Homo sapiens: one gene and its partner. The protein of the gene in region 2 purifies or fractionates together with the protein of the main gene of each other region. This does not show direct contact. Each region holds a gene or a part of one and is shown on either strand. Other genes may lie near its edges.

What was found.
Region 1: the proteins of PAX8 (region 2) and NFIA purify together in Homo sapiens (co-immunoprecipitation; one large-scale study listed by IntAct). This does not show direct contact.

Annotation. Positions count from the first base shown.
Region 1 is NC_000001.11:61,403,992-61,407,817, forward strand, and holds part of NFIA (nuclear factor 1 A-type), read left to right. Parts: intron 1-112; coding exon 113-291; intron 292-2,570; coding exon 2,571-2,736; intron 2,737-3,826.
Region 2 is NC_000002.12:113,272,143-113,275,968, forward strand, and holds part of PAX8 (paired box protein Pax-8), read right to left. Parts: intron 1-3,826. UniProt on the Homo sapiens protein: Transcription factor for the thyroid-specific expression of the genes exclusively expressed in the thyroid cell type, maintaining the functional differentiation of such cells.

The DNA of each region.
Region 1 (3,826 bases), on a different chromosome or scaffold from region 2:
GCAATATTGTGAATCGGGCCAGGAAGAGAAATAAAGGAGGAAGTTGAATCGGGTTCAGCTATGACAAAGCAGGTCTTTCTTTTCATAACCCTGATGTTTTCTTTTCCTGCAGCAAGTCCGCATGCAACACCATCGACTCTTCATTTCCCGACATCACCCATTATCCAGCAGCCTGGGCCTTACTTCTCACACCCAGCCATCCGCTATCACCCTCAGGAGACGCTGAAAGAATTTGTCCAACTTGTCTGCCCTGATGCTGGTCAGCAGGCTGGACAGGTGGGGTTCCTCAATGTAAGGAAACCTCTTTTTTTCCATTTCTTTAGAAATGTTAGCCGAATATAAAAATAACAAGGGGAGACCTTATGATCATGTGACGTTGTGCTCTAATGTTGTGCTGACTGACTGCAGGCAAATGTCATATTTATTCTAGATTGTGGGAAAGTTAACTTGGTCTAAGAGTGATTAGTCAGGGTTTAAAAACAGTGTTTGTGTTAAGTTTGCAACTGTCAAGTTTATGGATATAAATCAGCTCAAGGGTGAACTATATAACCTTCTAAGTTCTGTGGGCTGATCATTCCACCTCGTGCATTCTAACCCCAGGGCTCATACAGTTAACAAAATAGAAAGACCAAGTAGTTTTAAATAATGATTTGGGGTGGTAGAGAAAGGTAGGGAGATGAAGGGGACAGATGTTTCAGATCAACTAAGTTGATATTTTTGAAAAATACAGTCTTGTAACACTTTAGATCAAGTTGACCAGTACTTGAACTCAAGATGCTGAAAGTACAGTTTATTATGGTTTGTTATTTCTGCAAGTCATTATCTTTCCCACTTATCTTGGTATAAAGCTAAACAGTGTTCAATAGCTTCACATGAATGTTTTTATTTTTCCTCAAATAAACCAAATAATCACAATTTGAAATGGCATTCCAAATGTAAAAGTGATTTTTAAAAATCAGAAATTTTATTTCAAATATAGGATTAGATGTTTACAGTGGAAAGCTGTATCTCAAGGCCAATAATAATAAACAACGACCAGCATAAAGCCAAATTTGATTTTCCTTTTCTACTAATAACTGTGCATGAAGTCACAGACTAGCCATAATTATTACTGGCCAATTTAGGATAGTATGTCACACCATCCTGTCACCGATTTTTTTCACTTGCAGAAATACCTGATTCTGCATATCTGCGCCAGAACAGGCAGCTTTGACTAATGTCTGGTGATGTGTTAGCAGATACATTTCTGTCTAGACAACAAATCAATATGGTGCCTCTTTTCTTTTTGCTTGTACATTCATTTGCTTGGCTTATTCTAAAGCATTCACTTATGGACTCTCAGCCCACTCAGAAATAACGCAAAGGCAAGGTTGCTGGCAAGAAAGCACAGCATTCTGATCGTCAGACGAGGTAGTCTTTGAGGAGCAATACTAAATATATAAGTACTAAATATATAAGTAAATGTTGATGGGGGAGTGAGACTGCCTCTGTAGAATTATTAAGCTTAAATGTAAAAGCCTGGGACAGCAGAATCTCCTTCAACCGAATTTTGATTGGGGACTAAATGTGAACTGTTGTCGTTGGTTGAATAGAGGCCTCTTGGGAAACAATGAAAAAACTGAGCTGATCACCAGCATCAAGCATCTGACTTCTAAATTATTAACCATTTTTGTAATAGTCCTGACACCCTATATAACTGTCAAATGCCCAGTTTTGCATTTTGATCAGAATTTTATAGGACTTAAGGCAGGTCTCTTCATGAAACTATTTTGAAAAAATTGAAAATAAAATGGGTTTTATTGCTCTCTTTGGAGGGGAATTTTTTGTTAAAGAGCTGTTATTTGGTTGTTTTAACATCAGGCAGCAAAATAAATATGACTCTTATGGCATATGCTTATATAATTTAAATCAAAATTAGAAGTGATATTTTTCCCTAGCAGACTTCTGACAGCTGAATTCTAAAGTTTCTGTGCCTGATGTTATACAATATGTGAACAAAATTTTCTATGTTCACTTAACACATTTATTAAATGTTATATAATATCAACTTTGAAGAGTGAAAATAAAATATTACTTTTTTATCTCAAGTGCATATTTAGGAAAATTTATTCTATCTATGTAAAGAAACATAGTGGAATAATGCCACAGTCCATAAAACACTTAGATATTAAATATTTAATAATCATGAGAAAGATAATGAAGGTAGCAGTTAATACAGAAAAATACAAAAGATTCCAAGCAAAAGTTGGTTACTCAGGGGACAAATCCAAAGTGATAATTGGCAGGTGATTTTATGAAACCAGATGCAAAGAAGGACAATGTAGTTCAAGAGATAAGTTTAGGATGCATGGAGCACATGTGGCTAAGAGTACTTTTGTGAAATGCCTTAAGAACAGAACCCAACAATGGACATTTCCGTATGGGCTTATGGAAGAATTGAAGCAGCTAGATACTTAGTAATTTACATTAAAGGTGCCTGATGAATATTTTGTTTTCAGAAGCAGCTAATGGTTGCTGTCTCTTTCTTCTTTTTCTTGTACGTGTGTTTTCTGCCCCCCCCCCCCCCACAGCCCAATGGGAGCAGCCAAGGCAAGGTGCACAACCCATTCCTTCCCACCCCAATGTTGCCACCGCCACCGCCACCACCGATGGCCAGGCCTGTGCCTCTGCCGGTGCCAGACACAAAGCCTCCAACCACGTCAACAGAAGGAGGTGCAGCCTCCCCCACGTCACCAAGTAAGTATGGCTGCGACAAGGCGCCGGTCACTTCTAAAGCTGTATGCACTGGAATCCACACTTAGGCTTTGTCCCTCACTGTATAGGCTCTAGAAAGAGGCACAGATCCCCAGTGATGTTGTAGCATGAGTTTGCCAGACCGAGAATCAAAGTGAACATGACTCTTGGGTACTCCACCAGATGAGGAAAACACTGGGTGTTGGGTGGATGAGATGGTGTAGCTACATACCTAGGACTGAAGTCAAGTTATGAGCTATTACATTTTGTATATTATTTGAGGGATTTCAAATGCTATTCCCATCATCAAGCAGCAGCTACTTACATGGATTCTGCTTAGAAAAAGTTCCTCATTCTTACAGACAGCCCTGCCTTCCAGGAACTTGCAGTCTAAGAGAAATGCACTTGAAAGTTATATACCTCATACATCAAATAGGAGAAAATGTCTAGATCAAAGCACCAACTCAAAGGTGTGTACACTGACCATTCGCTGAGAGTAAGAGCCTGGCAGAAGATCAATGCTAGTAGCCCTGGCAGTCGCATGGTGAGGTTTGGCAGAGGTTGGGGTAGGGGCTGGGGTACGGAGATAGAGGGGAGAGTAGGATGGAAGGAGGAGAGAAGTCTTGGCTCTTCTCTGAACAGTCTGAGAACATTTAATCAAAGAATATAAGATTTCACAACCCTTTTAGATGATGGGAATGATTACTTGAACTAGAGAGAGAGTAATTCTCCAGATATTCCCTGATGTTTTAGATATGGCAAGGGGATAGAAATAGTTTGAATGCACAAATGTGCCTTTTATTAGTGCCTGGAATAATGACAAAAAGAGTGATGGCTGGAGTTCCTAGGTGATGGATGCCCTAGCCTTGATAGATGGTGTGATGAGCACCTTCCCTAAAGCTGTAAAGAGGCAGCAAAGTATAAGAGAAGGATAGGAGCTGTGGCAGTGTGACCCTAAGGAAAGCCTTCAAGGGGGTTGTCAAAAGAAGTGAGACTGAGGCAAGGAATCTACAGAGGAAAGGATGTAAGAGCAGCATAGGAAAGGAGTGTTAAGGCCAAGAACTTGAACCACAGTAATAGGTGTAGAATGGAA
Region 2 (3,826 bases):
GTATCCTTCGGGGACTCTTGGACTTTCTTCCCCTTGATCTTAGACATGCCTCAGTAAACAGATGCTGGTTTCTATCGAGACTCATTCCTGGGGAAGGACCCCCACCAGCCAAGCAAGGTAAAGCCCAGACTCAGTTACATGAATTACAGGTTTAAGACAGAAGCCTTCCTATGAATATTTTTCTGGCCAGTGGCTTATATAAGAGAAATTTGCTCATTGTATTTCTATCTGGCCAACGAAGGGGTCTAGAGGGGCTTTCAGCAACCCAAACAGTCTTGTCAGCCCTAACTCTGGACCTAAGGAAATAATTATGAATCCTCAAGATCCATTTAAAAGTGTCATTACTGTAGATAAACAAAGACGAGTGGATGCTTCTTCCTACTCCACCTCACTGCAGAGATTCCATCCATCCCAGGGTCACTGACCACTGACTGGATGAACTAGGATTGGTGTGGCAGAGTGGAGTTTTCAGGAGCCAAGAGACTCCTGGATTGTCATGCTCTGTACTCCTTCCCCACGAAAGGAATGTCTAGAACTCCTGCTGAAAGTAGTCATTGCCTGCATTTCCTAGGCAGAATGTGTTAGCTCCCTCCCCAGAAGAACCTGGGCGAAGAAGGTGTTCCAATCTGCATTTGGAAAGAATCCCTCCCGCAAAGAACTCTACACCCTCTAAGAGAAGATAACGTGAGGGCATATTCTCCTCTCTTAGAGGGTGTTTTCAATACTAAATTCTATCTCTGAAGAGAATGAGGACCCGAAGGGGGGCAGTGCACCAAGTTTTCAACTAAAACAAAAGCAAAACTAATCTGCAGTCTTGAAGGTGGGCTCATTCATTCCCCTGCCCCCACTTTTTAAAACATTTTTTTTCTTAAATGAAACAGTTTCTTTTATCTTTTGGCTTCTCGTGTACTCAGAACCATAGAGCTCAAAGCTTCTCAGCTCAACGGAGAACTCAGCACTTCTTGGACTGATAAATAGAGCAGCTTTAAAATGCTTAGAACTGAAGACAGACCAACTGTGGCGAGAGAAAGTAAACACATCCATGCACCAGTCAACCCTAGCAAGCTCCTCGCTGAGATTACAAACTGCAGTTCCTGCCTGAGCCGGAGAGGATGCTGGAGCAGGCTGGGGGACCAGAACCACAAACCAGCCCTGGCTTAGCTCTGGCTTAGCTAGCTGTGCCCCAGAAGAGCTGGGTCCTCAGGGAGTCTTCTTGCGGCCCGGTTTGGATGTTCCTAAGCATAGAAGACTCTGCCAGTGTGTCCCTCATTCGTTTCACATTTGGAAATGTACCAAGAGAAGTGGGAACCAGCTTTACTCTTTGATCTAGATGGGAATCCTTTCCTTTGCATTCAAGCTCTCTGTGTACAGGTGTAACTTGCCAGTGAGAGACTTGGGATTTCTCACAAAATAGAATGTGATAACGACATAATTTGATATGAATATTTGAGGAACTTTATCTCTGGACAATATATACTTTAAACATCCCCCTCCCCAAGTCACACACACAAATTGTTTTTATGAGAACCAATTAATAAATGCTAATTCATTGAGGCATATCTTCACTAAATTACTGTTTCATTTAATTGCAGGGAATTTTCCATTACTAAACTCTCCCTTGCTGATTTTTTTTTGCATTATTTATATACTCTTTCAATTTCACTAATAGTGAGGTTGGTATGTGATATTATCTGATGTTTGTACGTCTTAAATTTATTTTTCATTTAAAATATTTCCTCATTCTTGCAGCTCCACATAATCAGGGAGAAACATCAATAAAAGCAGGCAAGATTTTACAATAAATGGTTGAAAAAGGCACTGGCTGAAATTAACCTGACAGGAACGCGTCCTGTGTGATTGTGTTTCTCTCATTCCAGACGTGCGTGTGTGTGCGTGTGTGTGTGTCTCTACTTTGGGTTAATGTGGGAATGCTTTCCTATATCAATAAGTCACAAGTCGATCTGTGAAAAGATTGTGCATACAAAATGGAGATGAAGATCACAGGGGCTTTAATAATAAAATAAACATAAACAACACTCGAATCTCTTTATAAATCCCAGAGCACAATGTGCGTTTTCTTACTTCCTTTTCATGGACCCCAGATAAAGACTTTGACAGCCAGATATCCAAGATCCGGATCAGCCAGCTTCCTAAAATTCTCCTCTTTTTTTTTAAGGGGTAGAAAACTGGGGGTATCCCTTGGTGGTTAGGGGTTGCTTAGAGACTGTGGTAGAGATTTGGTGTTAACAAAAATGTATTTTGAAAGCAGGATTTCAATTTTCTTATATTGAATGGCAAAGGTTCCATGCACCTGGCTATCTTCATTTCTGAAATGAATGCTTTCATTTTATTCTCTCCAGCTACCTTCTCCCTTTCTTTCCTTTCCACCCCCATTGCCTCCTTTCAGTGTCTTTCTTTTTCTCCTTATTCTTTCACTCCTTTCTCTCTCACAGCAAAATGTTCTGGAGGATGTGAATGATTAAACTGTTTACTCCAAGGTTTAGGTATGAAAAGGCAAGTCACTGTAAGTAAAGTTTCACCTTTATACCCAACTCCATCAATAATTACAGAACAAGGATGACTATTAGTAAATCTTTCTTACAATTGGCTCTTACAAAAATGATTTCATTTTTTCTGGGCATACCAAGTTTGACAGATTTTACTTTTCACAAAAATTATTTACACAGCAGAGGAACCTGCTCCAAAATGAAGGAAGCATATAAAGGGCCGTTGAGTGTATCCATAGGAAAATGAATACCTATAAAATGCATCTCAATAAATTAGAGATTTGAGGCCATAAATAGAACGTTTTGACATATTATATTAGTAGATGCCCTCTAATTTAAACCAAAGTGTCCCTTAGTAATTAAAATTCCATGAGATTGATTTTTTATTTGGTTTCCTTCACTTCCTTTGTCTTCTTCAACAAAATTAGGCAGAGTCCTTTTGGGGGTAGACTGATAAAATTAATTAACTTTCCTTCCACCCCCAAAAAGTTCCAAATAAATGCTTCCAATAGACATCAAAAAAGTGTCAATTAGAAATAATTACTTCTTATCAATCAGTGGGGCAATTAAAGTGACAAAGCTTAAAAAGATACTTATCTTAAAACTAATTCACAAGGTAGCTAAATTATCTCCTAATTAACTTGCATTGTGGAGGGTGGGGGGGAACCATCTTGAAACAAAGATGAATTGATGAACCCCAATACCTCTTTATGTTCCTCAAAGTTGCTTCCATCCCCTGAAACCTTATTTTCAACCCAGGCAGGAAACCTGGGAAGAAAACAGATCCTTTCCAAATGCATTTATTCCACTTTCCTCAATTCTAAAACCAAGAGTTAGGAATGGGGCTTTAGATCTCACATCAGGGAAGTTAGAGACATCGTCCTCTGCCTTGTCTTATTTTACCACTTGAATGAACTATTTTCGGGACTGGTGGGAGTGGGCTGCGACAAGTTATTTAAGATAACTTTTAATGACAGCCAGCCTGCTTGCTTTTACAAAACTCTCTTCCTCATTGGTACAGTATTGTTTTCACTTTTATATATATGGGGCATTTATCGTTTCTTCTGCATCTTTGAATTTTTTTAAAAATGTTTTTGCTTTAGAGAATTTCGTCCCTGATGCAACAAAAATAGCGATTTTAAGGAACGTTCAGCCCATCGCTGACCTGCGCACGTTAAAATGATTCGCGTTCAACATTCCTGCAGAATAAAGCTGTAGGAAAGACAACGTTAAGACTCTCTGCAAGGCAAGACCAGCCAACGACGAGGCGACCCCGTGGCAGGCTGGGCGGCGGAGGCCGCGCGGGGAGGTTTTCTCGA